3 separate regions of the Homo sapiens genome follow, and regions 1 and 2 are each linked to region 3. The links come from fine-mapping of genetic effects on gene expression. A gene starts in region 3. Each other region holds a variant in brackets. All regions are shown on one strand. Distances are between the middles of the regions. Region 1 overlaps TAOK3 (TAO kinase 3). Region 2 overlaps SUDS3 (SIN3A corepressor complex component SDS3). Region 3 holds the start of SUDS3 (SIN3A corepressor complex component SDS3).

Region 1 (10,513 bases), 170 kb before region 3:
TAAAGGGGATCATTTCTATATATGCAATCAAGAAATTTTATAGTTCAATGCAACTTTCCGAGCTTCATTTTTAAAATTATTGATAAAATACTTTTATGTTTATTTTATTTTCTGTTAAAAAGCTAAAATACTCCTGTTCTTGTTATGTCTACGTTCTGAAATCCTGCCTCTTTAACTATATCCCTTTCTTCTATCTTCGGTGCCTCTGACTCTGCCCTGGCTCCATCTCTACTGCATTTAAAGATGAAGAAGCCTGCCTTATATTTATGGATCTCTCTACATGCTGCCCACTCTTACTTTTCCTTCTTAACCCAATTTCTGAATCTTAACATAATTATTTTTTCCTGTCTCCCTCTTATCAACTCCCATGAATTATACAACTCCAGTAATCTACTATTCATTCTACCTAGTCCTGTAAAACTGCTTTTACTAAGGTCATCAAGGATTCTCTAACTGAAAACTTCTATCTGTATACTGGCAAGAGTTTATAATGCCAGGACCTTAAACTCAAAAGGCACGAAACTGAAATCATCCTAAATCTACTCTTTCTCCCTGGTTCTTTTTCTCTGTTCTTGGTATTGACATACTCCTAGCCACCCAGGCTCCAATGCTCAGAGTCACCTTAAACTCCTCCTTATCTGTCACTGTCAATGAGAAGCCATGGATTATGAAATCTACCTCTACGATGTTTCTCTAAAGTGCTCCCTTTTCCCCATTTGCATCGACACTGACCTTATTACCTCTTGCATGGACTATTAGCCAGGATGTTGCCCATTCAAATCCATGTTACACTCTGTTGCTAGGATAATCTTCCTAAAGCACAACACCTTTCTGAGTCTAGAACACCCTATGCCCATTTGTCAGAAACTACCCACATCATGTCCTCCAGGAAACCTTCACTAATCCCACCAGCAGACTTATTTTCTCCCCATGATGGACCCCTGCAATGGGGTTACACCTCTGTAGCACTTTTCATATTTTGCCTTATATAAGTGTTATTTTATGAATGTCTCTTGTACAACCCTTCATGTTTCTTAAGGCGGACAGCATCAATTAATTTTTATCTTCAAAAGTTTTTCATAGTGCCCAGTCTAGAACTTTTTCACATAGTGGGCATTCTATAAGTGCCTGCTAAAATAAATTGAACCTACTTCCTCATCCTCCTGTGACTCATTCAAGGGTCCATTCCGTGTCTCTTGGAAAAGTATTTTTTTCATTTTTCGGTACTGTAGGTTATCTAGCTCACGAACTGCATCTTTTGTCCTCTGTATGAGGTCAATGAGGACACGTAGTGGCCGGTCTCGTCGAACAAAGTCATGCTGATTGAGGGAGGAGGAAAAAATAAACTGATAATGAAGAAATGTCCTTAGGTGCAAGGTACAGATATAAAAGGAAATAGAGAATCATAAAATAGTTCTATGGATATTACAGAAATAACAAAATATGATTTTCATGTCATGTGTCCTTCCATATTTTGTAAATCTCATAAAGAGATAGCTATGCTTTTTTCTTCTTCCTTAAGCCCCATTTTGCGGATGTGAGAATTCTTTTTAAAAATTGTACATATTTAAAGTATATGGCAACATGTTTTGATACACATATATATAGTGAAATGATTTCTACAGTTAAGCAAATTAACATATCTATTATCTCATATAGTTACTTCTTGGTGGCAAAGTACCGAAAATCTTTAGTCTTAGCAAATTTCCCAGATATAATACAATATTATCAACTATAGTCCTCATGCTGTACACTGGATCTCTACACTTATTTATCCCACATAACTAAAACTTTGTACCATTTGACTTTCATCTTTCCATTCCCCATCCCTTTCAACCACCTTTCATTTTGTGTTTTATTCTTTGTTTACTTTCCACATGTAAGTGACATCATATGCTATTTTTTTGTGTGTCTGGTTTATCTCACTTAGCATAATGTCTTCTGGGTTCACATGTATTGCTGCAAATGGCAGGCCCACTTTCTTAAGACTATATATAAAATAAATATTATAAATAAACAAATATATAATAAATATATATAATAAAATATTCAGTCATATATATTATTGAGTCTTAAATATCTATATCACATATACCATAATTTCTTTTATCCTTTCATCCACTGATGAACACATAGGATGTTTCCTTATTTTGGCTATAGAGAAAAATGCTGTGATGAACATGGGGGCACAGGTATTTTTATGAGGTGCTGACTTCATTTTCTTCAGGTATATAACCAGCAGGGGGATTATTGGAACAAATTAACATTTTGTTTTTTGGGTTTTGGAGGAACCTCCATACTGTTTTCCATAATGGCAACCCCAATCTACATTCCCACCAACAGTATATAAGGATTCCCTTTTCTCTATACCCTTGCCACTTATTATCGCTTATCTTTTTTGATAATAGCCATTCTAACAGGTGTGAGGTGATACCTCATTGTGGTTTTCATTTCCATTTCCAATAATTAGTGAATGTTGAGTATCTTTTCATATAAGAATTCTTGAGGTTTACTTTATCATATAAGTAATAAAAAAATCACTAGAACTTTAAGAAGTAGGAGGTAGGCTTGTACCTTTTAAATCTGAAACTACATAATAAGCAGAAGCAATGCATAGTATAGTCTATTCTTTTTTTTTTTTTTTTTTTTTTTTGAGATGGAGTCTCGCTCTCTCACCCAAGCTGGAGTGCAGTGGTGCGATCTTGGCTCACTGCAACCTCCACCTCCTGGGTTCAGGTAATTCTCCTGACTCAGCCTCCCGAGTAGCTGGAATTACAGGCATGCACCACCATGCCTGGCTAATTTTTGTATTTTTAGTAGAGACGAGGTTTCACCATGTTGCCTTGGCTGGTCTTAAACTCCTGAGCTCAAGTGATCCACCCGCCTCAGCCTCCCAAAGTGTTGGGATTACAGGCGTGAGCCACCGCACCGCACCTTGTTCTATTCTTATTATAACTTGCCTCAATCCTCACCCCCATACACACTATCCCTTGAAAAACAGACTTGTGAATATTTTGTTCTCTATTTCTGTGGCCGTATAGTGTATGCTTGAAAATATGCCAGTTGTTCAATTTATCCAGAGGTCAAAATTCTGGCAACTTCATTTCCCCAATTAAAAAAAAGGGTCTCTGAGGAGTGAAAACAACTGCCCTAAAGTCCATAAATTAATCTTGATATAAACATCCCTCACTTTCAATATTATTAATGATTGTTACATAATCTGGTTTCCTAGTTTCTCAGCCCATAGCAGGTTAGACAGAGAATAAGAATGGAGAAGTAAGCCTGGCGCGGTGGCTCACGCCTATAATCCAACACTTTGGGAGGCTGAGGCGGGTGGATTACTGGAGATCAGGAGTTCAAGACCAGCCTGGCCAACATGGTGAAACCCTTTCTCTACTAAAAATACAAAATTAACTGGGCATGGTGACGTGCATCTGTAATCCCAGCTACTCGGGATGCTGAGGCAGCAGAATTGCTTGAACCTGGGAGGCAGAAGTTACGGTAAGCTGAGATCACACCATTGCACTCCAGCCTGGGCAAAAAGAGTGAAACTCCATCTCAAAAAAAAAAAAAAAAGAGTGAGGAGTAAAGGATTGAGGACTGGGAAAGGTAGGGTTACCACCTGTTGTAAAAAGAAGTAGCTTTTGTAAGTTCTCTGACAGCTTGAGAGTAGAGAAACAGAGAGAAATTTCATGACTAACAGACCTATCAACCAAACAAATAATAATAAAACAGGTTTGTGGGCTATTTTGCAAAAGGGCAAATGCCCCTTATATAGCCCCTTTTATGCCTCAAGAGTTCACGAAACACTGTTTCTGAGCCCTCAAGAAGTGACATTAGGCTGGGCGTGGTGGCTCACATCTGTAATCCCAGCACTTTGGAAGGCCGAGGCAGGCTGATCACTTGAGGTCAGGAGTTTGAGACTAGCCTGGCCAACATGGTGAAACCCCGTCTCTACTAAAAACACAAAAAATTAGCTGGGCATTGTGATGCATGCCTGTAATCCCAGCAAGCCAGGAGGCTGAGGCAGGAGAATGGCTTGAATCTGGGAGGCAGAGGTTGCAGTGAGCCGAGATTGCACCACAGCACTCTAGCCTGGGTGACAGAATGGAAAAAAAAAAAAAAAAGACATTATTTTTTAAAGGCAAAAGTTCAGTTATGTGGAAAATTTACTTATGTAAAATTGTAATTTGAAGACATTGGGAAAATGAGATATAATGTAGTGGGCCTTAGCTGATGAAATGAATTTAATTTCTTTATAATTTAAACAGATAAAAAATAATAGGGCCCTTGTGAGAAAACAATCTATATGTCTTGTGGTTCTGCATTCTGACTCTCTTAGAGGAATTGTGGTTTTTGCTGTTGCTTTTATAAAATACCTCTTCCTAGGTAGAGTCCTTTTTGAATAAAAAACATCATTCCCAGAAGCAAGTGTAGCCTGCACATTTCAAGGATGAGAAAGAAAGGAAGAAA[G/A]TATTATCATTTTCCTCCTCTAGTGCTTACAATTATAAAGAGCTAATCGGTTTTTAGTAAACTTAAAGCTATGACTTAACATCATAGAATTTTAGAACGGGAATGCCTCTTAGAAAACTTTCTGTTTCAAGGCTGGGCATGGTGGCTCATTCCTGTAATCCCGGAACTTTGGGAGGCCAAGGCGGGCAGATCACCTGAGACTAAGAGTTCAAGAGCTGCCTGGCCAACATGGCAAACCCCCATCTCTACTAAAAACACCAAAATTAGGGACCGGGCATGGTGGCTCACAACTGTAATCCCAGCACTTGGGGAGGCCGAGGCAGGGGGATCACATGAGGTCAGGAGTATCAAAGACCAGCTTGGCCAACATGATGAAACTCCGTCTCTACTAAAAATACAAAAATTAGCAGGGCATGTTGGCACGTGCCTGTAGTCCCAGCTACTCGGGAGGCTGAGGCAGGAGAATTGCTTGAACTTGGGAGAAGGAGGCTGAAGTGAGCCGAGATCATGCCACTGCACTCCAGCCTAGGTGATAGAGTGAGACTCTGTTTAAAAAAAATAAAAATAATAAATAAGAAGTAAAAATAAAAAATACCAAAATTAGCCAGGCGTGGTAGTGCCCGCCTATAGTCCCAGGTACTCGGGAGGCTGAGGCACGAGAATCAATTGAGTCTGGGAGACAGATCTTGCAATGAGCCGAGATCAGGCCACTGCACTCCAGCCTGGGTGACATAGAAAGACTCTGTCTCAAAAAAAAAAAAAGAAAGAAAATTTTTCTTTTTCAAAGTGAGAAAATTTGGGCCCTGAGAAGTTAGGTGATTTCCATAGCTAATTAGTAGAAGAGCTACGGCTGCAACTCAGGCTTTAAAAATTTTTTTCTGCCAGGGGTGTGGGTGGTGGTGGTTATTTTCTGGTGTCCTACTACCATAATTATCTTTCTAAAATACAGGTATGATCATTCATTGCAACAGATACTACATGTCATTCCCCCATTCCAACTTCTTTTTTTTTGAGACAAAGTCTTACTCTATCACCCAGGCTAGAGTGCAGTGGTGCAATCTCAGCTCGCTGCAAACTCTGCCTCCCAGGTTCAAGTGATTCTTGTGCCTCAGCCTCCCCAGTAGCTGGGATTACAGGCGTGCACCATTACGCCCAACTACTTTTTGTATTTTTAGTAGAGATGGGGTTTCACTATGTTGGCCAGGCTGGTCTCAAACTCCTGACCTTAGGTGATCCACCCACCTCAGCCTCCCAAAGTGCTGGGATTACAGGCATGAGCCACAGCTTTCAGACCCAATCTCTCTCTCTCTCTTTTTTTTTTTTTTGCCTTACTTGAAGCACTAGGAAGTAAAGGAACTGAACCCAAGCCTTCTTTGTGGTTACAGATCACTAAGTGACTAAGTTCTGGCCAGTGAGAGGTAGGCAGAAGTTCTCAAGGAAGGTTTTATTTTCTAGAATAAAAAGGCAAGACACATGAGGACAAGGTGTTTTACCCTTTGTTCTCTCTCCTTCTTCCTGCCTGGAATGAAAACTTGAGTCATGGCAATGTAGCAGCCATTTTATGACAAAGACAATAAAAGCTACATGCTAAGGATGGTGAAGTAGAAAGAGAGAAAGAGCTTGGGTCGATGACGACATTGTTGAGCTGCTTAGAGCTTTGGACTGCTTACGCCACTTCCTTTTCCAATGTCCTGGACTTCCTATTACATGAGATAAACTCTTACCTGTTTAAACCTTTTACAAACAGATACACTCTACATCTTAATATCTCACTGTCTCTTAGATAAAGTGTAGCCTTTTACAGCCAGGTTCCTGCTTGTATTTCTAGGTTTAAATCTAGTCATTGCTACTCCTCCTTCCTACACAATTCTAGGTACATTCTAGGTAATTCTAAACCCGTGCATACCTTTCACACCTCTAGGCCTTTGCCTTCACATCTCTATGTTCTCTCTGCCTGCAATCCCATCTCCTCATTGTTTTTTTTTATTTTTATTTTTTGGGACAGAGTCTTGCTGTGTCGCCAGGCTGGAGTGCAGTGGCGCCATCTCAGCTCACCGCAACCTCCACCTCCCGGGTTCAAGCAATTCCCCTGTTTCAGCCTCCCAAGTAGCTGGGATTACAGGCATGCACCACCATTTCCAGCTAATTTTTTGTATTTTAATAGAGATGGGGTTTCACCATGTTGGCCAAGATGGTCTCAATCTCCTGACCTCGTGATCTGCCCACCTCAGCCTCCAAAAGTGCTGGGATTACAGGCGTGAGCCACTGCACCCGGCCTCCTCATTGTTTTTAAAAGCCCACTGTTCTCCAAACCCCTACAACTGGAATGCCCTCGGACTCTTTTAAAAGGACAATTTTATTGTTCTCAAAAATATGTTTACTTTCAACACTCAAATAACACAGAAAAATGTATAAAAAAAGAAAATCGGCCAGGCACGGTGGGTCATGCCTGTAATCCCAGCACCTTGGGAGGCCGAGGAGGGTGGATCATCTGAGGTCAGGAGTTCGAGACCAGCCTGACCAACATGGAGAAACCCTGTCTCTACTAAAAATAGAAAATTAGCCGGGCGTGGTGGCACATGCCTGTAATCCCAGCTACTAGGGAGGGCGAGGCAGGAGAATCGCTTGAACCAGGGAGGCAGAGGTTGCCATGAGCCGAGATCGTGCCATTGCACTCCAGCATGGGCAACAAGAGCGAAACTCCGTCTCAGGAAAAAAAAAAAAAAAAGAAAGAAAATCACCCGAAATTCTACCATCTCGAAATAAATACATAAATATTAAGTTACAGAATATCATTTTAGACATGTCCCTTTCTTTCTCTCAGAACAATGAATAACTAGAAATCATTTTACATGGGAATCTGATTATACAAGCTAATTTTATGTATAATCGATTTAATTAAGGTATATTTGAATTTAACAGGATTAGAAGAGACTGAATTAAAACGATTGCATAGGCTGTATGCAGTGGCTCATGCCTGTAATCCCAGCACTTTGGGAGGCTGAGGCGGGTGGATTACTTGAGGTCAGGAGTTTGAGACCAGCCTGGCCAACAGGGTGAAACCCTGTGTCCACTAAAAATAGAAAAACTAGCCAGACATGGTGGCGTGTGCCTGTAATCCCAGCTGCTCAGGAGGCTGGGGCAGGAGAATTGCTAGGGAGAATCTCAGGAGGCGAAGGTTGCAGTGAGACGAGATCGCGCCACTGCACTCCAGCCTGGGCAACGGCGCGAGACTCTGTCTCACACACACACACACACACACACACACACACATGCACAAATTAAAAAATAAAACAATTGCTTAACTTTAGTTGTAATTTCTTCACCAAAAGAGTTATCTGTTCCTAACAGATCCTCTAAAGTTAAAAAAAAAATTATTAAAGGCTTTACGAGATTGAAGTTACTTTAGTTCTTTTGTCCTATATATTTTAAGAAATGTTATTGTCCATCTACTTGGAAAGATAAGGAAATTAGTATGCATACGTTTTTCCTGCCCTTAGATTTTTCTAATTACATTATTTTTACATTGCAAATGTTTCTAACATTTACATCTGTCCTTTAACCATTTCAATAATTTTACCTCAGTTGTTTATTTAAATGGATTAAGTGTGAAAGTGATGTTTTAATGTCAGGGCAAAAATGCATGGAAAAGATGTATTATTGAAAAATATCTGGGAGTAAGTAGATAGCTTAGCTGGGGGAAAAAAGGTAGATTTTTACCTCACTCCTTGTAACAAATTTTTGCATAACTCTCCCCACCTCCTTTCCACAAAACATCAGCATAAAGAATGTCAAAAGAGAAATAGGAAAAAAAAAATCCAAGATCTACTATAAATTAAAAAGGAAATACAAATGGCTTTTCAACTTACGAGAGAGATGTTCAACATCTCCCATAATGTGAAATAGCAATTAAAACTATAGTGAGAAAAGTTTTCACTGATCTGACAAAGTTCAAAAAGTATCAGTCTTCATACTTTCACGGTGGGACTATAAATTGGTGCAACTGCTTTGAAGGACAAATGGGCAATATCTATCTAAATTTAAAATCCACATTGATGAGCAATCCCACTTCTAGGAATTTCTTTATTTTATTTTTATTTATTTATTTTTTTGAGATGGAGTCTTGCTCTGTTGCCCAGGCTGGAGTGCAGTGGCACGATCTCGGCTCACTGCAAACTTCGCCTTCCGGGTTCAAGTGATTCTCCTGCCTCAGCTTCCCGAGTAGCTGGGATTATCGACGCATGCCACCATGCCCAGCTAATTTTTGTATTTTTAGGAGAGATGGGGTTTCACTATTTTGGCCAGGCTGGTCTTGAACTCCTGACCTTGTGATCTGCCCACCTTGGCCCCACAAAGTGCTGGGATTACAGGCATGAGCCACCGTGCCCGGCCAGAATTTATTCTTTAGATATTCTTATACAGGGACAAAATGCCATATACACAAAGATATTCATTACGGCACAGTTTGTAATAGCAAAAGATTGGAAACATCCTAAATGCGTTGGTTAAACAAATTATGGTCCATCTAAGAATATTATGGAGCCATTAAAAAGAATGAGGTAGCTTTGCATGTAGTAATACAAAACAATATCCTAAGCACACTGTAAAGCAAAAAGAAAAATCAGGGTGGAACGGTTTTTATGGTTTGCTGTCATTTGTGCAAAAATAAAAACAACATTTACTTTTATATGCATAAAATATCACTAGAAGGAGAGGTACAAAATAGGTGCAGTGGTTGCTAGTGAGGGGGCCTGAAATGGGAGGGAGATTTCTTTTTCATGTTCTACCTTCTCTTATTATTTTTTGAGACAGAGTCTTGCTGTTGCCCAGGCTGGAGTGCAGGGGCACAATCTCGGCTCACTGCAACCTCCTAGTTGATCAAGCGATTCTCCTGCCTCAGCCACTCGATTAGCTGGGACTACAGGTGTGAACCACCATGCCTGGCTAATACTTATATTTTTAGTAGAAATGGGGTTTCTACGTGTTGGCCAGGCTGGTCTTGAACTTCTGGCCTCAGGTGATCTGCCTGCTTTGGCCTCCTAAAGTGCTGGGATTATAGGTGTGAGCCATTGCACCCGGCTCTTCTTCTTCTTCTTCTTCTTTTTTTTTTTTTGAGACAGGGTTTTACTCCCATCACCCAGGCTGAAGTGCAATGGCAGGATCTCGGCTCACTGCAACCTCTGCCTCCCAGGCTCAAGTGATTCTCCTCCTTGAGCCTCCGAAGCAGCTGGGACTAAAGGCGCATGCCACTGCACCTGGCTAATTTTTGTAGAGATGGGGTTTTGTCATGTCCAGGCTGGTCTTGAACACCTAGGTTCAAGTGATCTGCCTGCCTCAGCATTCCAAAGTGCTGGGATTACAGGTGTAAGGCACTGTGCCCAGCCCCAGGTTGTACCTTCTACTGTATTTTTCCTTTTGGAAATTTGTGAGACCTATTTAAAATGAAGAACATACAGCTTCTTTAGCCATGCAAAATAAATAAATAAGTATTTGGGGAGGGGCCTCTTTAAATTCAATATTTACCATCAGCCCTTTTACCAGTTTCTCCAGTCCCTCATTCATTCTTCCTGCTTGCCTTCCTCCCTCTTTTTCTTCTTTTTGCTTCATCTCTATATTGGCTAGATTCTGTTATTGAGCAATTTTTAAAAGGAAAGCGCCGAAAGGTTGCATTGCCTAAATGTGTGGGGCTCGAAGATGTCAGCTGCCTTTATAATTTAAGAACATCTTGGCTGGCTCACAATTCCTGGCTTATATTTTATTTCCCTTAGAACTCTGCAAACACTGTTCTATTGTTTTCTGGCTTTGACTGTTCCTGAAGAGGTAGGTCTGGAGTCAGTTGGTTTTTCCACCCCAAAATAAACTTTTTCAGTCTGCTTGTATGAATCTTTCTTTATTCCTAGAGTTCAGGGACTTCACCAGGATATGATTTACTGATCAATGAAGATCAGTTTCATGGTCCCCCTCTTCATGCATGTATCTGCTTAAATGTTACCTCCTCGAACGGCCTTCTCCTTACCTAAAATAGCAGCACCTGTCAATC
Region 2 (10,513 bases), 47 kb after region 3:
ATGTATTTTTCCATTGAAGGTGGAGTTTTTCAATGATCATGTGTTTTGTCCTCCTAAACAGTATACCAAAGTTTGTTTTTATAGTTGAGGATTGTATTGATAACCACTGGGGTTCCGCATTGAAGCAGGAACAAATTGCCTCTTTTTCTGGCCTTCTCTGTGGGACCTCTGCTTTTGTGAAGCAACTATTTATTTGAAGACCAGGGTATGGGCACTTTTGCCTTCTCTCCTCTCTGACTTTTGAGGGTATTGAGGGCGCCCTTAGTCATAGTCTCGACTCCGCCATTGCCTTCTCCTCGGCGTCCTCACAACTCTTAATTGGGCCTAGTGAAAATGGGGGCAGGTGAGAAGTCCATTTTGAGAATCAGCATAGTAAATTACATTTCTAATCCCAGAGGACTTAATATTTTCTTTTGTCACCCCAGAGGTGAAAAATCAGCAGTTGAAGCCTGACAGGCCTCAGTGGTGACCAGGAACAGAAGCAGCCTTCCTGTTAGTAGATGGGGGTACTTCTGTGGTGGGCAGAAGCCTTACTAAAGGGGAAGACAGACTTTGAAGTTTCTAGACGAGAAGGAGGCTAGCTTCTAGCCTGGGTGGCCATTATTCCAAAAGGTCATTGTTTCTCACTAGACCCCAGGGCACCAGATGAATTTCCAAGTTTAAACTCTTTCCTGCAGGTGATTACTTTGAAAAAGGTTGGTCCAGACCATTTTGATCAAGAACCTGTATATGTGTTGTGTTAGAGGCATCTGCCTCAAGTCTATGTACAGTGTTTGCTGCGGGTGTGTTCCAATATTCATTTTACCTCTGCTTGGGGGTTTTGTGTGTTCCCCTCCCCCCATGCCCTGCCTACCCCCTTTTCCCTGAACCACGTCCTTTTGAATAATTTCCAGATGGATTTCTGTAGCCATACCAAAGCCAGGGTGTTTTCATTCATGCGGATACTAGTATTTATAGATGTCTGACTACCTAACTTAATTTTTGTTTTTGAACTTCTAATTGGGGCCAGTGTAAGGTCGATCCCAGAGGCTGATCTGCAAATCAAGCTACATGTATTTGTGTATAAGACCCTGTGTTCAGGACTGGGTGACTTTTCTAAGAAATATGGGGTTTAGAATGGGGTTGACTGTATTTTTTAACCTAATTCTGGAGAGAAGATTGTATTTTTTACAGTTTTTTGGGTTTGGCTTCCTTCTCACATTTCTTTAGCTTTGAATTTTTACTAAATAAATTTCCTCCTGATTAATTTTTTTTTTCTCATCTGGGAATTTGAAATCTCGGTGCTTACTGTTACACCAATTTGTCCAAAGAGTTGAAATCACTTTAATGCCAGAACATGGTAAATTTGCAGCCATTTCAAGCAGGTGATGGTCTTTTTTTATAACATCGTTAACGGGTACCATTAAATATTCTGAGAGGTGAATGTAAAATATAAAAGGTATAGGTTTTTTTTTTTTTTTAAAGAAAACAATAAACTTTCAAAGAGAAAACCAGCATGAAGTCTGTATTGTATCCATTGACTTGATAAGTGATAGAAATTTATTTTAGGTTTTTGATCCATTGCTTATGGGGAAAGGAAGTTAGGGCAGAGGAAGGGATATTCTAGACATTTAATTCTTAGTGAAGACTAAGATACAGAATGATGTCAGGCTAATACTCAGTTTTGTAAAGAGCAATCTGGGGTGTTGACCCTTAAATGTTTGTGCACTCTTCTTGTTGCAGATAAAAGTCATTAAAAATCAAGTGAATAGAATGGATCTTGGGTGGAAAAACAATCTTGAAATAAACTTGTGATTGAGGATATTGTTCATTTGGTGCATGATTAAGGAGGATATTGTTCCTGGCTTTTGAGATAGTGCCTACCAATCTTAACCAAACAGTGATGGTATTTGTACTGCTCCCGGGGTCAGCCAACAAGCCTGCGTGCTGCCACAGGTGACCGACCTGTGACCCAGTTATGGCACCCCTTTGGGAAAGACTGCTTTATGCTTTAGATGATGGAGAGGGGTGGTTTCTGTTTTTAAAATGTTTGAATTAGACAGAAATGTGCACAAGTTTTAATTGTAGAAGTTGTTGAAATCTCTCAAAGTGAATTCATCCATGTAACTATTATAGCATCCAGATCAAGAAATAACATTCCCAGAACCCACAAGCCCCTTAGACTTTCAGCTACTCCTCCCAACTAGTTTTCTCTATTTTAAGTACCTTAACCTTCAAGCTCTTGAGCTGCTTCCTTCCATGGTTGTTCTAGAAGAGCCAGGTACCTGGTATAGGCTAGGGATTGACCAGGAATGCAAAGAGCTAGCAGCAAAGGATATGACTAATTGGGGAGGGGAAAAACAGATTCAGGTCAACCTGCTCACCCTCCCCATTGTTCCCAAGGCAAGTGGGGCTTGCCCTTGATGTCATAGTCTGCCTTTTCCTGAGTACTTTGTATATATGCCAGGCACTGTACTAAACCCCTCATGGGAGGCACTTTCTCACTAATCTTCACAATCTCTGAAAGAGTACTAACTCCCAAATTTAAGGCTGGCTCAGTCTAAGCCTTGACTTAATTCTAGAAACCCAGAGCTCAGCACTGTGCCTCATACGTAAATACTCTGTAAATGTTAGCAAATGATATTAGGGTATGATGTGCCAAGGCAAACTGGTGAGTAATAGTGCATGTTCTGGGTGCTGGCCCCTTCCCTTGTGTTACCTCATTTAAGCCTCATAATAAATTAAGGAGAGTACACTGCTGCTGTCACCAGTATTCAATTATTATTTTGGTCACCCATGAAGCAAGCATCTCACCAGTTTTTAAAGAAGGAAACAGACTCCTTGAATTAGAGGAGGTGATTCTCCAAGGTCACACAGTACATAACAGTCTGGATTTAAAGTTTCCAAGCCAGGTTTCCCCTAACCACTACACTTTGCAGTCCTTCCCCATGTTAATCTGTTAAAATTACGTTCAACATTTCTGCCTTTCTTCAGGATTTCCCTGGGAGGTTTTGTTTGTTTGTTAAAATACATAAGCTGCTTTCACCTCCTATACACACATGCTCCCAGAGCAAAATGCTAGAAGTACAAACACTATTATTTGCAGGACCCTTTCCCCTGCCTGATAACTCTGGGTTTCTCTCTTGGCAATATAGTTGAGAGCCATGGTGACCAGCCAAGAGCTTGCTTTCTGTTGATCCTGCATGAGTATAACCATCCTAAAAAGGAATGGAAACAGCTCATTGGTCGTGATGAGAACTGCTTTATCCAATAAGCTACAAGAGAGCCTTTGGGCAAAAACATGTATCGGTATTTTTTCAGATCACTTCCTCCCTCCCTGCCTTATCATCTATGGAGTTGGAGCCATTGAATTGGTTTCTAAAAATGTCGGTATGGAGTTGGGCCTTCAGCATCTTGATGCTCTGATGTCACTGGACCTTTCCATGGCATGCCCTCCTGTAGAGGCACTGTAATGGAAGAATAAATACCTTAGCTCCATGTCACCTGCCCCGAAACTGCTCAGTTCTAATTGGCGACCTGCTTATCAACCAAACCAGGAGTGTGCAGTCTTTGGGCAGAGGCAGGAGTAGAACCAATTTCTGGCCTCTTGCACTATCATTTGAGGAACTCTAAGCCCCATCCTTGGGAAGGCTAAGCACTTTTCCTGCTTTTAAAAAGCACCAGATGGAATGAACTAGAAACATCATTTCACTCCCTTTGAACATAATATGGTGAGGAATACATTTGCTTTAGGAACTTTGGTGTTTACCAGAATAGATGTTTTTGTGAATAACTGATTATTAAGACAAAAAAGTAGATTTAGGAGGATCCTTAGAGGAGAGAGGTAGATAAGAGACAGCATAGGTACCGAGATGCTTAATCCCTTTGCTCATTTTCTCTAATCTGTGTTTACTCGATTCCCTGAAAGATACAGATCTATAAAATATTCACTTTACTGATACGAGAAGACCAATAACCCGAATCTTAAAGATTCATATTTTTCAGAAGTCGGAGACTTAGCGGTGTGTTGTGTTTTTCCGTAGGCTGATGCTCAGATCTGTTGGCATCACCTCTCTCTGCCAGTGGTGTGGACAGGCAGGGGGTACAGTAGGTGGCATTCCCAGAGCCAGTCAGGAAAACAATGCCCCAGGTCCTGGGAGTCAGCAACACCGGTACGGAGCAAGCAGATACTCAACGCAGGAGTACAGTACAGGTTAGCAAGCCCCTGCAGGTAACCAGGAACCCCCTTTATTTCACCACCAATTATTTTCATAAGTGTTTGAGTGTTTACTGAGATGCAGGGTGGCATTATGGCTAAGAACAGAAGCTTTGGAATCAGGATTTGAATCTGGCTTTACTGTTAAGCTGGCTAGGTGTGACCTTGGGCAACTTAATTTCTTTGAACCTCAGTTTCCTCATTTGCTAAATCATATCTACTTCAGATATGTTTTTGAGGATTCTAATAATATTAACACAGCCCCAATTTCCTTCTGGTAGGAATACAATTTAAAAACATATTTAAAACATAGCACCTACTGTGCTAAGTATTCTGTTAACTCACTGAATCCTCGTAACAACCCTATGAGGTAGCTACAATTATAGTCCTTGTTTTGTAATTGAGGAAATCGAGAAACAGAGAGGTTAAGTAACTTGCTCAAGGTCACACAGCCAGTAAATGGCAAGCCGGGATTCTGAGCCCAAGCAGTCTCTCCAGAGTCCCTGCCCTCATTCACCCTGCTGTACTGTGAGGAGTACATAACACAGGGTTGGACATGGTTACTGCCAGTCTGTGGAGACTGTCCCTACCATTACAGATGCTGTGGCCATTTGTATACTTCTCTCTTTGGATGCTAGTCTGACTACTAGATCCTAAGCGATCAGAACCATTTCAGGAAAGCTACTTCAGCTAACAGCAGACCACGAAGGTAAAGCTGCTGGCTTTAGAGACCATGCTCAGCATCACCTCCTACAAATGGGTGGGGACTGCCCCAGGTGCAGGGGTGAGAAGGACTCTGAGGCCCAAGTTCCAGTAGAGCAAGAAACAGTTGCCCAATCCATTTTTTCTGCTGTGAGCAAGGGAGTCCATTTAGTGTTCCTGATTTAGTTTGAGCCCTTCATTTGAAGATGAAAACAGCTGCAGCCCAGAGATGTTAAATGACTTTCCTGTGGTCTTAGAGCTATAGTCAGTACCACAGCTGGGCTATAGTCAGTACTACAGCTGGAATATGGTTAGGACAATCATTTGAGGACCTCTTTATGCCGGGCTGGGTGCTGGAAAGCATAGTGGACAGCTCCTGGGATATGAGACTTTCAGGACTAAAACCAGAAAGTCCCAGGCACACTGGGATGGAAATACCCTAACACTGCCATCGTTCTATGGGTTCATTTTTGCCTCTGTCTGTACCTGCCCAGTGGAGGTGATGAAGGCCCTGAGTTCATAATCCTGGCCTAGCCACTCATTAACCTTGGGACATTTTCTTAGTCTCTGTGTGCCTCAGTGTTAGGGTATTCCCATCCCAGTGTGCCTGGGACTTTCTGGTTTTAGTACTGAAAGTCTTGTATCCCAGGAGCCCTGTCAGACTGGGGCAAGCTGGGATGGTTGGTCACCCTACCCAGTTTCCACTGTAAAATGGGGGTGACAACTGCTGTTTTTTCACAGATTTGATTTGAGGGTTAAGTAATTTATTATTGATAAAGTACTTAGAAATAGTGTTTGGGACATAGTCTTTTCTCTCTCCCTTTCTGTGTATATAGATA[TAC/T]ACACACACACGTACATATGTGTGTGTGTAATATAACACATATGCACATGTATATATACACACACATATACATACACACATTGTTAGAGATGAGGTCTCACTGTGTTGCCCAGGCTGGAGTGCAGTGGCTATTCACAGGCACCATCATGGCTCACTGTAGCCTCAAACTCCTGGCCTCAGGCGATCCTCCTGCCTCAGCCTCCCAAGTAGCCGGGACTAAAGGCAATACATATTTATTTTTCCTTGTTATTCTTGTTTTCATTATTATTGGAAGAAAGTGTTTCCACCACAGAACGGGTCCCTGGAGACCTTCACTCTTATCCCAAACAAGACAGGGAACTTTGCTATGATAATCTTTTGGTCACCTGCAGCCAGTTGTTTGGAGTGTTTCTTCATCTACTTGAAATAGTAAATAATCATAAGCTTGAGGAACACATTTGTCATTGCATTCAATTCAAAAACCATTTATTGAATTTTACTGCATGTTAGGTAGTGTTCTAGGCTCTTTTGGGGGATTCAGAGAAAGCTAGGCAGGCCTTGAGCAGTGTCTATGACCAAGAATGGGAATTCCATACAGAGGAAATGGCTTGAGCAAAAAGACAAGTGGATATGAGTCATGTTTAAAGTCAAATAGTAGCGTGTGTTTAACATACATCACAAGCCTTGAACTTTTTTTCTTTTTTCTTTTTTTTTAGACAGAGTCTTGCTCTGTCGCCCAGGCTGGAGTGCAGTGGCACAATCTTGGCTCACTGCAACCGCCGCGTCTCACAGGTTCAAGCGATTCTCCTGCCTCAGCCTCCTGAGTAGCTGGGATTACAGGTGCCTGCCACCATGCCCGGCTAATTTTTGTATTTTTAGTAGAGACGGGGTTTCACCATGTTGGACAGGCTGGTCTTGAATTCCTGACCTCATGATCCACCCACCTCAGTCTCCCAAAGTGCTCGGATTACAGGCGTGAGCCGCCACGCCTGGCCACAAGCCTTGAACTTTAAAACCAGTTTGCTCCCTGTTTGGTTATCTTTTTGCCCTTTCCCATCGAGGACTCGCCTTCCTTTCCTTTCTGCCTCTCTCCTTTCTTCTCCCCACTGTGCCTGCCCTGCTTGCTCTTCTTCCCCTTTCTGTCACCAGTGCAGTGGCTCATGGCTGACCTGCAGTGATGCTTTCCAATTTCACACTAACATGCTCCTGAAAGTATTAATAAGCTAACTCATATGTAAAACCAATAAAGGGCAACAGCACACATTCCTGTTAGACAGTAATTTTACCTGATTCCCTTTCTCCTACTTTGATCAGTCCTCTTCTCTCAAACATGGTTCTTTGACCTTCCCAGAAGTGAAAGCTTATGGGAATTCAAGCTTGGTGGAGCCCTGCGGGCATATTAGGAAGGAATAAGGGCTCAAATTTATTGAGCACTTATGATGTGTTTGGGTGAGGGCTAAGTACTTTTTATACATTATTGTATTTAATATACTAAACTGCCCTGTGATGTGTGTCTTCGTGATTTCCATTTTACAGATGATGAAAATGAGGCTTGAGGAGGGGAAGTGTTCACCTCTGCACCACGTTCACACATTTCCTTTCCCCTTTGGCTTCTGTCTTCCTAATGTAGATGGCCAAAGCATAAAGGACCCTTAGTTGTCATCTTAGCCAACCCCTTCCATTTTTCGCTTCTGGAAACAGACGCCAAGCTAGAACTCAGTTCTTGTAACTCTCAATTCAACAATCTAAATGGAGAAAAGAAATCCAGTTGTGAGACTCAGAGGCAGGGGCTTGAGACAGGTTTGAATCTGGATTGAACTCTGCTGCTTACAAGCTGTGTGAACTTAGGCAAATCACATAACCTCTCGGGGCTCCAGTTTCCTCATCTAGAAAGTGGGACTAATAATAGCAAGGTTTATTGTCAAGATTAAATGAAGTCATGCAAGCAAAACAATATAATAACTATTGTGCTTCAAACAAACTCTGTAGGTCACTTGAGTGCTTTAGAAAATATAACCTGGCCAGGTGTGGTGGCTCACACCTGTAACCCCAGCACTTTGAGAGGCTGAGGTGGGAGGATCACTTGAGCCCAGCAGTTTGAGACTAGGCTGGGCAACATGATGAAATGCTGTATCTACGAAAATTATCCAGGCGTGGTGGTGTGTGCCTGTAGTCCTAGCCACTCAGGGCCTGGGGTGGGAGGATTGCTTGAGCCCGGGAGGTTGAGGCTGCAGTGAGCCATGATCGCACCACTGCACTCCAGCTTGGGAGACACAGACCCCATCCCAAAAACCAAACAAACAGAAAATGTAGCCCACACCATGCCCGTGCCGGGTGGGCATGGTTATCACAGGGATTGCCTACCCCAACTCCTGCCCCACCTGCTCAGGCAGGTCCCATTGTGCCTCAAGGATAAGCCCATGGTGAACTTCCAAGGGTACGCCATCCAGGGAAGGCCAACAGAAGCCACTAGTCAAGTGGCTTGACTAGTTCAAGACAAGCAGATCTCCAGGCATCTGTTTTCATCTTGTTAACCTTCTCACTAGAGAAGAGTTTGAATTGCTGCCTCTCTGGGTGTGTGGAGATAGCCACTGGATTGTGAGCCAGAGAGGACAGGGACTGGGGCTTTTTGTTTTTCCTCCAAATCTCCCAACACGAGTACATTGTAGGTGCCCATTGAGTGCTTGCTGAATGGAGGAATGGTTAGCTACTGCCTCCTACTTCTCGTTGCAGGACATCAATATCTTTCTAAAATCATAGTAATGTGAAGGCTATCCAGAAAGTCAAAAGGTTCCACAGAGTTGGCCACAAAACAGAGTAGCCCCCTGCCCTCTGCTTTATTTCCCCCTCCCAGAGATTATTTTATCTCTTTTGGCTGATTATTTTATCTCTTTTAGCTGATTATTTTGGTATCTAGTATCTATTTCTAAATAGGCTGCTTATTATTAAAGCTAGATATTTCAGTTCCAGGCGTTATCTACTAAATTCCCACTGTGGGGTCATCCTTCGCTCTCCCAATGTAGTTATTTCAGGATTTTCGTTAGGTCAGTATTCAACGTTTATGTTATTATGACTATGTAAATGCTAGTTGCAGCTGAGCCGTGTTGTACACTATGATTGCTTTATCTTTCCTTGACAGCTTTTCCCCCCGGGAGTTAATAACTGTCTTTTTTTTTCTTTTTGTTGTTTGCTTAGTTTTCTGTGTACTTATTACTAATTCGACCTTAAACTCTTCACCAAGTGCCCAAATTCTCCCCCTAAGGCATTCTGATGCACCAGGAATTCCAGCAATTTTGTTACCTTGAAAAATCTTCCTTCTTGAGGACCCCAATTTGCTCTGCACTGGACTGGTTCCTCCTGGCGTGGCACACAGCTGTCACTCTGGAGTTCCTGCATCACCATGCTAGAGCTCCCTTATCCCTTCTTTGGGTTTGAATCTTTCATTTTTTGTCTTCCTGTTTCTTCCTGTTTGTCTTCCTGTTTCTCTACTTTACTCGCCCATTTTGTTAAAGCACATTTCCAGCCACTTCCCAAGCAGGGTTGAAAAGACTTTCATTCTGTTCTTCTAAGTACTTGGCACTTAAAGTATATTTTAACCACCCCACCCGTTCCTTCATTTTCATTTCATTTCCTCGTGCTGTTCATTCATTATTGTTGGCATTCTCCACTGTCAGTCTTAAGACGCAGATGTTTGCATGTCTGTGTTAATCTACTTTCCATCCACTAAAATTTGGTTGTTTCTTCTGCAATGCCCTTTATTTTGGTGGGTTTAATTCTAGTCTGGACATTTTTCTTCAAGATTTTGAAGACATTGTTTTATTGCTTTTAGCTTCCAATGTTGCCCTTGAGAAGTCAGAATTATTCTGACTATTGATTCTTCTAGATGACTTCTTAACATCTCTGGAAGCTTATAGCATTCTCAGTGTTTTGAAGTTTCATGATGATGGGCCTTGGTGTGGGCCCACTATGTTAAGCTGTTAGGAGGTCTTTCTTTCTTTTTATCATCTGGGGAGAATCAGTGCTTATGAGGGTTTTTCAATTCTGAAAATGTATGCCCTTATATTCTGGGGGAGAAATATATATATAATGTGATAGTCAGCCTCCAAATGGCTTCCAGTGATCCTGTCTCTGGTAGTCACACCCTTGTGCAGTTTACCCTTGTACTGGACCAGGGTTGATCTCTGTGACCAATAGCCTACAGCAGAAATGATAGTATGTCACTTCTGAGATTGGGGTATGAAAGATAGTGCAGTCTTGGATCACTTGCTTTGGGAAATGCCAGCGACCATGTTGACCAGCCTTATGGGAGGCCCGTGTGGCAAGAAACTGAGGACTCCTGCCAATATCCAGCTGGTAACTGAGGCTTCTTGAAGCCCTGTGAGTGAGTCACTTTGAAAGTGGATTCTGTAGCTCCATTCAAGCCTTCAGATGAAACTGCAGCCCTTGCCAACAACGTGACTGCAACTTCACGGGAGACCCTGAGCCAGAACTATCCTATTAGGCTGCTCCCAGATTCCTGACCCTCAGAAATTGGGTAAGATAAAAAAAATTGTTATTATAAGCTGCTGAGTAATTGGGCCAATTTGCTATGCAGCACTGGATAACTAATGTAATGGATAATACATTTTCTCTGTTCTTGCATTCAGAAATTTCTGTTACTTGGATTTTATACTTCCTGTAACAGTCTTCATATTTTCTTTTATCTCTTATTTTCCATCCTTGGTCTTTTTACTCTACATTCTGGGAGATTTTCTAAATTTTATTTTCTAACCCTTCTACTGAGTTTTACCTTTGTT
Region 3 (9,625 bases):
AAAAATACACTCAATACATCTTAAATATAGTGTCTCATATTTTAAATCTGTATTTGCTGTTGTTGTTTCTCTCATCTGTATAATTTCTATGTCTCAGGAGAGGACTTCTAGTTAGCGGAATTTTTTTTCTTTTTGAGACGGAGTCCTGCTCTGTCGCCAGGCTGGAGTGCAGTGGCGCGATCTTGGCTCACTGCAACCTCTGACTCCTGAGTTCAAGCGATTCCTCTGCCTCAGCCTCCTGAATAGCTGGCCCTACAGGCACACACCACCACGGCCATCTAATTTTTTGTATTCTAGTAGAGACGGGGTTTCATCATGTTGGCCAGGATGGTCTCCATCTCCTGACCTTGTGATCCGCCTGCCTCGGCCTCCCAAAGTGCTAGGATTACAGGTGTGAGCCACCGCGCCTGGCCATGTTAGTGGAATTTTCATAACCACATCAAGCTGCACACTCTCTGAAGCCATAGAAGAACTGCTCTGTATCAGGTAATGTCAAATAAAATCCCTAAACAGTGCTTCTCCTCTACTTATTATTACCCTGATAAAAATAACTTCAGTAATTTTTGTCTTGGATTTACATAGCAGTTATATGTAAGGCATCTGCATTATATATTTAGGAAATAATACAACATTCCTTTATTCCTCTTAGTTGAAACTGCCTATATTGAACACTGGCAAAAGACTTCTAATAAAACACATTCTAAACCTGAAACAAAGGCGATATCTAAATAACCGACATTACATAGTAATTACATTCCTCACTATTTTCCTAAAACCATCATTTTCGATGTCTGCTTCTATAAAAAAAGAAACCAGTCCAAGAGGTGAGGAGATACAACCTATAAACATTGAAAAGGAGGTTTTAAAAATTCAAATACAAAACTGCTGGGTACAACCATAACAAAGCATGTGCATTCGAGTTTGAAAAGTAGGTAGGGCAGTATTAACATATCCTAAGTACTGTGAACAACTAGCCTGATCATTAGTTTAATTTTCACATCCCTCAGAGTAGGAGGCTGTCCCCCAACTCCCACCCCCTATTGCTTCCCACTATTTGTTTCAACCTTTTAATAGATACACTTGCCTCCCACCAGGACACACAGTGTCTGGTTTAAATAGGTTTATCTCTCTCCTTAGCTTGTCCTGGAATTACGCCTAAAGCTCAATCCTGGCAGCTTTTAGGATAAGAAATCTAATTGGAAAGAGCTCTTAGTTTTGCGACTCCAAAACCTCTTTTGAAAATTTAGTTTGACCTTCCAACTATCTCCAACAGATCAAAGTTAAACAGTCCAGATTCCAAACCTAGTATAGTTCCTTTAAATCTGCATTGTAAACATTGATACTGATATGCTGCCAAATCTAAAAAAGTTTCTTAGCTCCTTGAGCTAAAATGAAAAACCAGTAGTCCAGGAAAACGCAAGGGTCTATCAAAGAAATATTCTTATTAATCTAAAACACGGGTCTCCAAAAGGATCCCTGTCCCTTTCAACTTCTTGTGGAGGGGGAAGTGGGGGAGGTTTGAAGAAGCCCCTTCCAACTTTTCACCTGACCTTTTCATTAAGATCAGGAAGCCCCTCGCTTTCAAGACATCCACATCAGACTCTAAGGAACGAATGCGAAGCCAGCGGGCCAGTGAGAAGAGGTCAGGCCGCGCAGGTCTCTTGATCATTCCAAGATCTTTGTCCTGCAGCCAGCCCCACCAGCCCCTCCAGCTCCTCCAGCCCATGCGTTTCACTTCAGAGATGTTTCATGACATAATCCGGCTCCGGAGTCCCCCGGAGTCCCGGGGGCTCACACTCCACCCTCAGGGAGGTCGCTGATGCCAGACCCTGGGAGCACCTCCCCGCTCCACTCGTCTGCGCTGCAGCCGGTTCCTATTTGCCCGACGCCGCGACTGCGACCCAGGCTCCCCGCCGCAGCCGTTCTTGGGGGGGCTCCCGCAACTCAGCGGGCGCGACCCCCCGCCCGCTCCCTCGCTGCTCACGCCGGGCCCCCGCTATGTGACTGGGGGCCCGACCCGCACCCATGGGGCACCGCTCCTCCCTCGGGGTCCGCGCCTGCACCCGACGCTCAAAGCCCCTCTCGGAGTCCCACGCTCGCATGCGCTGTCCCGAGCCCTCTGGGGGTCCCCTCCTCTCACCCCGCTGTCCTGGCCCCTCTCGGGGTCACCCTGCTCCCACCCGCTGTCCCGGCCTCTCTCTAGGTGTCCTGCTCTCAGCCCCGCTGTCTCAGCCCAGCCCCCTTCCGGGACCCCTCCTCTTCTCCCACTGTCTTGGCCCTTCCTGGGGTCTTCTCACACTCTGTTCTAAGCCCTCTGGGGATCCCCTGTCTTCACATCCCCTGACCGGTCCCCTCTCTTTACTCTGTCCTGGATTCTCTCTGGGTCCCCTCCCCTCACCTCGGGGTCTCCTCTCCCCGGGTGCTGTCCCAGCCCCTCTCGGGGTCCCCATCTCTCAGACTCTCAGTGCCGGCCCCTCTCGGGGACCCTTCCCCTCTCCCCGCTGTCCCTGACCTTTTCTGGGACCTGGTCCTTCAGGGGACCCCCTCCCCTCATCCCCCTATCCTAGTGCCTCATGAGGCACCCACCCCTCACCCCACTACCCCAGCCCCTCTCCGGGTCCCTTCCTCTCACGCGCACTGTCCCGGCCCCTCTTGGAGACCCCTCCCCTCAGACTTTCAGTCTTGGACCCTCTCGGAGTCCTCTCCACTCAGAGCCACTGCCTCGGTCCCTCTCGGAGTCCCCTCTCCTCACCCGCTGTCCCGGTCCCTCCCGGGGTCTCCTCTCCACAGTCTGCACTGTCGAGCCCGCTCCCGCAACTCCCCTCACTCTGCCTGGGGTCCCGCCGCCTCGGCTCCCACTGTCATGCCCCGCGCCCCGGTGCTCTCACCTCAGACCTGCTGTCACCACCCCCGGGCCCGGCGCCGCCGCCGCCGCTTCCTCTCCCACACTTGTTCCTGAGTCGCTCTCCTGTGGCTTGTTCCCCGGCGGATCCTTGGGTCCGGTCGCTGAGTGCCGGATCCGGCTGTGCGCAGCCTCTGCTCGCGGTCTCGGCGTTGCGTCCCACTCTCCACGCAGGACCCCGCCGCCCGGCGCCACAAGGACCCTCCCGCGGCCGCCGCCGCTGCTGCTGTCCGAGGTGCGGCTCCTGCCAGGGGTGGCCAATCGCACCGGACTGCGCCGAGCACGCCCCGCCCCACCGTCTCAGTCCGCCCGCCCCCTGCCCCGGACCACGCCCCAAGCTCGGCTCCAATAGGCTCTCTACTGACCTTCCCTGATCGCGGGGCACAGGGCCGGGGCCGTATATAGGTATTTGATTGATGGAGCCTGGGAAGCCGAGCGGTCGATGGAACCCGAGGATTGGCGGAGTTGTCGATGGGCGGGACAGGGCAGGGCGGGGTCTCCTCAGACGCGGAAGACCTTGCAACTTTAGTAACCTACGGGCCCGCCTGGGGTGCGGTCAGTCTTGTTTGTGCTGCTCTCCGGTCAAAGTTCATGGCGCTTCTCCCCACGCCTTTACTTTTCTTGGGAGATTCCCAGGGACCACCATGTTAGAGCCTTTGGGGAGGACCCCAGTCTCTCGCTAGACCTTGCACAGCTTTCTTAGTAATTCTGCCATGAACTAATATAGCATTAATTTGCCCAGGATTTGTAAAAATTTCCTGGATTTAAACCATTTCTTTTTAAAATCTCTTGCAAGGGAGTTGCCTCTCCTTGAATTGAGTTCAGCAGCCGTCAGTTTGATACCGTTGGGGGAAAAAAAATCTATATACAGTACTAGGTGCATACTTTGCCCAACTAAGCGTTCAATGCGGGGCACATTTTGATAGGTGCAAGGACAAAGCTTTAGAAATTTTCAGTTTGTAGGTTTTTATGACAGTAGGAAGACTGTGGTAGGGGAACCCTATTATTAGCTTAACAAGGTTTCAGCAAAGCTATTCAATATAACCTTTTTCCAGGGCCACAGGTTTTAATGATTCTATGTGAACGTGTGGCCAAAGGATAACGAGCTTTGACCCAGGTTTAACATGTGATAATCAGAGACTCCTCTTGATCCACGCTAAAGGATAGTGCCTGCCAGGGGTGAAAGTGCATCATGCTACTAAGACCCATTTGTGTTATTTTTGTGAAACTGGATATGCTGATCAAATCAACACCGGAAACAGAAAACTGCTTTCCTTACTCTTAACGCCAAAAGTAAGTTTATGGACTTTAGAATTTAGCATTTTATGAAGAAATTGTCTCAGGAACACATTTTGATCCTAAGTTTTGTCAGATGTATACAGGCCTTAGTTCTCAGAGAACCCTCGATTGTTAACTTTTTAACTCCAGCTGACAAAATGTGTTTGTGTTCTAAACAGTATACATGTTTCTTCTAGTGTTTTAAGAATCATACGCCATTCATCACCTGAGGTCAAGGGTTCCAGACCTGCCTGGCCAACATGGTGAAATCCCGTCTGTACGAAAAATACAAAAATTAGCCGGGCATGGTGGCACCCACCTGTAATCCCAGCTACTAGAAAGGCTGAGGCAGGAGAATCACTTGAACCCGGAGGCGGAGGTTGCAGTGAGTCGAGATCGCATCACTTCACTCCAGCCTGGGTGAAAGAGCAAAACTCCGTCTCAAAAAAAGAAAAAAAGAAAAAGAAAAAAAAGAATCATACTCCATTCCAATTGTGATGTCCCCCTTTAAAGTTTCAGTTTGGGTGTTAGGGTAGGCAGAGAAGGCCTGGAAGCAAAGAAGTTGTGGAAATGGGGCTGGCAGGGCTTCGTTTCAAGTCAAGTCGAGTTCCTGAGCGGTGTGGCTGAGTACCGTTTTGAGAAGGGATATATAAAAAGATTTCAAGGTGGTAAAACTTGGTTTTGAGGGAACTTGATTTTTACAGGAGTATAGCGACTGTCCAAAATCATATTAAATAAATCTAAAGGTTAGGTAAGACTAAAGCCATAAGAGAATTTTTTTGAGTAGGTCCACCTTCACTAAAGAGCATTTTTTAGTTCTGCAGCTGGCAATCTGGACAGAAAAAAATGGGGTAAGTTTTCATAACCCAAGTGCTCAGTTGTGTCTATTCATTACATATAAAAAAGAAATGCATGACCATTAACAGATGCTGTTTGCAGTCAAGAAGACAGCAGTAAAACATAAGCAGGATAAAAATCTCAGCGTCTTGAAAGGAAACCATTTAGCAACGAAATAAACTTAAAAATTAATTGTATCAATGAACTCTTGATTTCTAAAATCTTTGCTTTTTCTGCACTATGATTACTGCTACTGACAGGAACGCAAGTTACTCAATATAGTTGATTGCAAGTAATTTAGATGTTCTCCAACAGCACAAAGAAAGAAAATGACTTCATCTTTTGGACAAGAGACAGTTCTGGAATCCTAGTTTAAATATAGATGGCAGACCTACGGTGCGATCTGAGAATGATTCTTATTTAGAAGGGGCTTCAGAAGATCTCAGAACTCCTGGAAAGACATCTTAGCATTCCATTCTGGAAATTCTTTAGTTTTGTTGGGAGAAAAAATCACTTACAAATAGAGCCAAGATTTTAATTAAAACAAGGTAGTAAATAAATGTCAAAATAAGTGGGATGAGAATAACGTTTCATTTTCAGAAGAGTCCATAGGGAACAATTCAGAGATAAATTTAATCACAAAAGGTCTGAGAATGGGAATATTCGGTTCCACCCTGGTTTTCACATCTGTTCATTTTCACTACTGGTTGCGTTTCCTACGGAGACTCGGGTGGAACATAAAAGTGGGGCTACTTTGGACAAACCATTAAAAACCTTACCCTTTTTTCTCGCTACACACAACTAGACCACATTGCTCTTAGCTAAAGGGACACCTTAAATCTATTCGTTCAGCAAAACTTATAACACCGTGTTCCTTTTCTACTCAGAGGGAATCGCACAAATTAATTCTTGCAGATACTCAGCTCTCCTGTTTTTTAAGCTTCCACGTGGGCCTTAGCCAAATAACTTCTGGTAGGCAAATTCTCCCCTTCTTCAGTTGAGAGCTCAGAGCAAGCTGTTGGATTAAGCAAAAGCACCTTTTAAAAAATTAATATTCAAGGCAGCTGTACCGCGGAGGGCCTGGGTCTCGGAGTCTAAAAAATCAGACTGGACGTTACTATTTTTTTTTAGGCAAACGACAGCTCGTTTCTCATTTGTAAAACCGGGGGAACATCTTACCGAATAAACCTTACACAAACAGAAAGGATTCCTAAGGGCTGGGAAAATACTATTTTGCTGTCCCCAGGATGGAATATCAGCATCCTTGTCTTTTAGCTCTTAATAAAGCTCTAACTAGTCACAGGAGGAGCCAGGCTGCATGATCACGCACACTCTGGACGTCTAGGTTTTCCGACCTAATAAGGGGGCAGGTCGCGTCGTTCCCTGCTTAAATTAGAGACCACCTCCACCTGCCAAGGGCCCTTCAAACCCTCCGCCCCTAGGTCGCTAACGATCACCGCTTTAGTTCTAGCTCCAGGCGCCGCCTGGCGGCTGTCTCCGGAAGTCGCCTGCGAGCCTCGGGGTCCTGACCGCTGCTGGGCCTGCCCGTAGATTTGCCTGACTCTAGCGAACCTGGCTCCGCCCCTCCCCCACTATACGTTGAGGATTTTAAGACGGCGATGAAAGGGCTGAGGTTGTGGCGACGGGGGCGTCCAGCGGCATCTCCACTCCCCCAAGGATGGCGGAATCAGGCCGTTGTCGGGCAGCTCTCGACCCGGAAGTCGCTCGCGGCGCGAGGCCCCCGTTGCCGAGCGCGGGCGCGGGGGGCGGAGCTCGGCGGAGACGGGGAAGGGGTCGCCGTGGCTGCCGGTCCTCGAGTTGGGGGCTGCCGCGGACACTGCTAGGCAGACGGCGAGTACCGAGCGCGGGTGGCCGCGGTGTCCGTGGGCCACGCTCAGCTGCGGTCAGAGGCGACATGAGTGCCGCGGGGCTGCTGGCCCCGGCCCCGGCCCAGGCTGGAGCGCCGCCGGCCCCCGAGTACTACCCCGAGGAGGATGAAGAGCTGGAGAGCGCCGAGGACGACGAGCGCAGCTGTCGGGGCCGCGAGTCGGACGAAGGTGAGTCCTGCCGCTCGCCCGGCCGCCCGGAGCGGAGGTGGGACCGCTGGGGGAGGGGGTGGGGCTGTTCGGGAGAGGGGCGGGGCGGCCTCCGGGGCCTGGGGCTGCGTGGAGGGGCCGCCGGGAGTTGCGGGGCTCGGGGAAGTTACCCCCATCCGTGCTGGAGTAGCGGGGAAGCCCTGGGTGCGTTACACTCGACCGTGATGGGGAGAGGGGACTTAGATGTTGTCACGCTGGGGGTCCCTTTAAGACCCCGTCCTCCCTCCCAGCCGTTTCTGATTGAACCTCACTCACTAGTAGGAATTAGAAACTCATTTACTGAATACATCGAGTGTAGTTCGCCCCTTTTTTGTGTGTGAGAGCATCAGAGTCCAAAGTTGCCCCTCCCCACCCCCGAAATGCATAAGTCATCTATACTTTAGGTAGTACACTATTGAGAACTCAGGTTGGTTAAAGGAAAGGGACCTAGAACCAGCCAGATACAGGTTTAAATTTGGCTTTGTCACTTAACTCAGCTTTGTAAACTTAAGTTTTCCAGCCTCGATTTACCCAACTGTAATGGAGCTGTTTAATTCCCACACCTGCCCTAGAAGGCACTTCCTAGGGTCGGTATAGGGATTAAATGACATGCGCATAAAGTACTTGGCCTGGTACTGTAAATACTCCGTAAATGTTCTCCCCACCCGCCCCCCTCCCGGAAACAGGTAAGAGAGGGAGAGATTTGCTTAATGGTCCCCAGGTGTTGTGTTTTCAGTCCCACGCTCTTTGCACTGTCATCACAGAGTCTCAGAGCCTTGCTTTTCAAACTGGGCTTTATAATTTGGCAAGTGTGAGGAACGCTATTTTGGAGGGATGGAGGAGGAGGAAGGTGATGAAATGTGAGAGATCAAGGGAGGAGAAATAGGAAACAAAGAGAGACCGATATATGAGCGGAATATTCTGGGACAAAATCGGGCCGTGGAGCAAAAGCTAGACCAGCTGTTTGGAATGGGGCCTACGTTTTATTCATCTGAGTTTCCCGAGTGCCAAGTAATGTGGCTGACCATGACAGGAACTCAGGGAAGGCCTCTTGACTGAAGGAGGGGAGAAGGGTTTGTGGGGAATTGGATCTGCAACAGCCTTACAAAAGACAGCTGCATATGCATGACATACAAAGTTGAGGGACTGCATTCGATTTAATTCCATCAGAAGACACGGCTTAACCAGAGATTTTGAATGTGAAGCACTTGCACTTCATCTCATACCCACGAGGGGGCGCTGTGGAGCCAAAATTGAGTTTTTTTTTCCTTCCAGTATAGGGGCTATTAAAATTTTGTACACACCCCAGCCATTAGCTTGTTCTAAGAACAATGTTTAAGATGTTCTGAAACAGTTTTCGTTTGATCATCTGGCCTCCTCCTTGTTCCCTTTAGTTGTAACTTGGAAAATATTTATTTGTGTCAGATTCCCCTTTTTTATTGTATACAGTTGGCTCTGCGTATCTGTGGGTTCTGCATCTGTGAATTCAACCAAGCGCAGCTCAAAAATATTCAGGAAAAAAATTGGATCTGTACTGAACATGTGCAGACTTTTTTTTTGTTATTCCTAAACAGTGTAGCGTAACAACTACTTACATAGTATTTACATTTTATTGGATATTGTAAGTAATCTTTTTTTTTTTTTTTTTAAGATGGGGTCTCACTCACTCACCCAGGCTGGTGTGCAGTGTCACGATCTCAGCTCACTGCAACTTCCATCTCCTGGGTTCAAGCAGTTCTCCTGCCTCAGTCTCCGGAGTAGTTGGGATTACTGGCACCTGCCACCATGCCTGGCTAATTTTTGTGGTTTTATTTGTTGTTTTGTTTATTTTATTTTTTTTTGAGATGGAGTTTCACTCTTGTTGCCCAGGGTGGAGTGCAATGGCGCGATCTCGGCTCACCACAACCTCTGCCTCCCGAGTTCAAGCAATTCTCCTGCCTCAGCCTCCTGAGTAGCTGGGATTACAGGCATGTGCCGCCACCCCCAGCTAATTTTGTATTTTTAGTAGAGACGTGGTTTCTCCATGCTGGTCAGGCTGGTCTCGAACTCCCGACCTCAGGTGATCCACCTGCCTTTGCCTCCCAAAGTGCTGGGATTACAGGCGTGAGCCACTGCACCTGGCCCTAATTTTTGTGTTTTTAGTAGAGATGGGGTTTCACCACGTTGGCCAGGCTGGTCTGGAACTCCTGTCCTCAGGTGATTCTCCTGCTTTGGCCTTCCAAAGTGCTGGGATTACAGACATGAGCTGCCATGCCTGGCCTGGATATTCTAAGTAATCTAGAGATGATTTAAAGTGTACTGTTGGCCTGGTGCAGTGGCTCATGCCTGTAATCCCAGCACTTTGGAATGCGAAAGCAGGTGGTTCACTTGAGGCCAGGAGTTCGAGACCAGCCTGGCCAACGTGGCGAAACCTCATCTCTACTAAAAATACAAAAAGTAGCCGGGTGTGGTGGTGCACCCCTGTAATCCCAGCTATTTGGGAAGCTGAGGCAGGAGAATCGCTTGAACCCAGGAGGTGGAGGTTGCAGTGAGC

The links. PIP is the estimated chance that this variant, and not a neighbour inherited with it, causes the effect. A credible set is the group of variants that fine-mapping cannot tell apart.
Region 1: its variant is the best candidate, but not a certain one, in a credible set for the expression of SUDS3 in whole blood (INTERVAL, PIP 0.50).
Region 2: its variant is the best candidate, but not a certain one, in a credible set for the expression of SUDS3 in whole blood (TOPMed, PIP 0.67).

The regions. Positions count from the first base shown.
Region 1 is chr12:118,200,145-118,210,657 of GRCh38, forward strand. It overlaps TAOK3 (TAO kinase 3), which reads right to left. Exons shown (of 21, transcript NM_016281.4): 12 at 1,152-1,319. Among named protein-coding and RNA genes, the nearest start is that of PEBP1, 69 kb to the left of the region's middle. The variant G/A (reference allele first, on the strand shown) is at 4,474.
Region 2 is chr12:118,416,233-118,426,745 of GRCh38, forward strand. It overlaps SUDS3 (SIN3A corepressor complex component SDS3), which reads left to right. Exons shown (of 12, transcript NM_022491.3): 12 at 1-1,801. Among named protein-coding and RNA genes, the nearest start is that of SUDS3, 45 kb to the left of the region's middle. The variant TAC/T (reference allele first, on the strand shown) is at 5,737.
Region 3 is chr12:118,369,760-118,379,384 of GRCh38, forward strand. It overlaps SUDS3 (SIN3A corepressor complex component SDS3), which reads left to right and starts at 6,796. Exons shown (of 12, transcript NM_022491.3): 1 at 6,796-7,074. The coding sequence starts at 6,933. LOC124903031 (a long non-coding RNA gene) reads right to left here and starts at 6,368. Exons shown (of 2, transcript XR_007063480.1): 1 at 6,197-6,368; 2 at 5,539-6,032. It overlaps TAOK3 (TAO kinase 3), which reads right to left and starts at 3,148. Exons shown (of 21, transcript NM_016281.4): 1 at 2,889-3,148. RefSeq lists silencers at 1,988-2,077, 2,178-2,237, 3,022-3,271, 6,793-7,012, 7,043-7,192 and enhancers at 3,592-3,641, 6,851-7,351.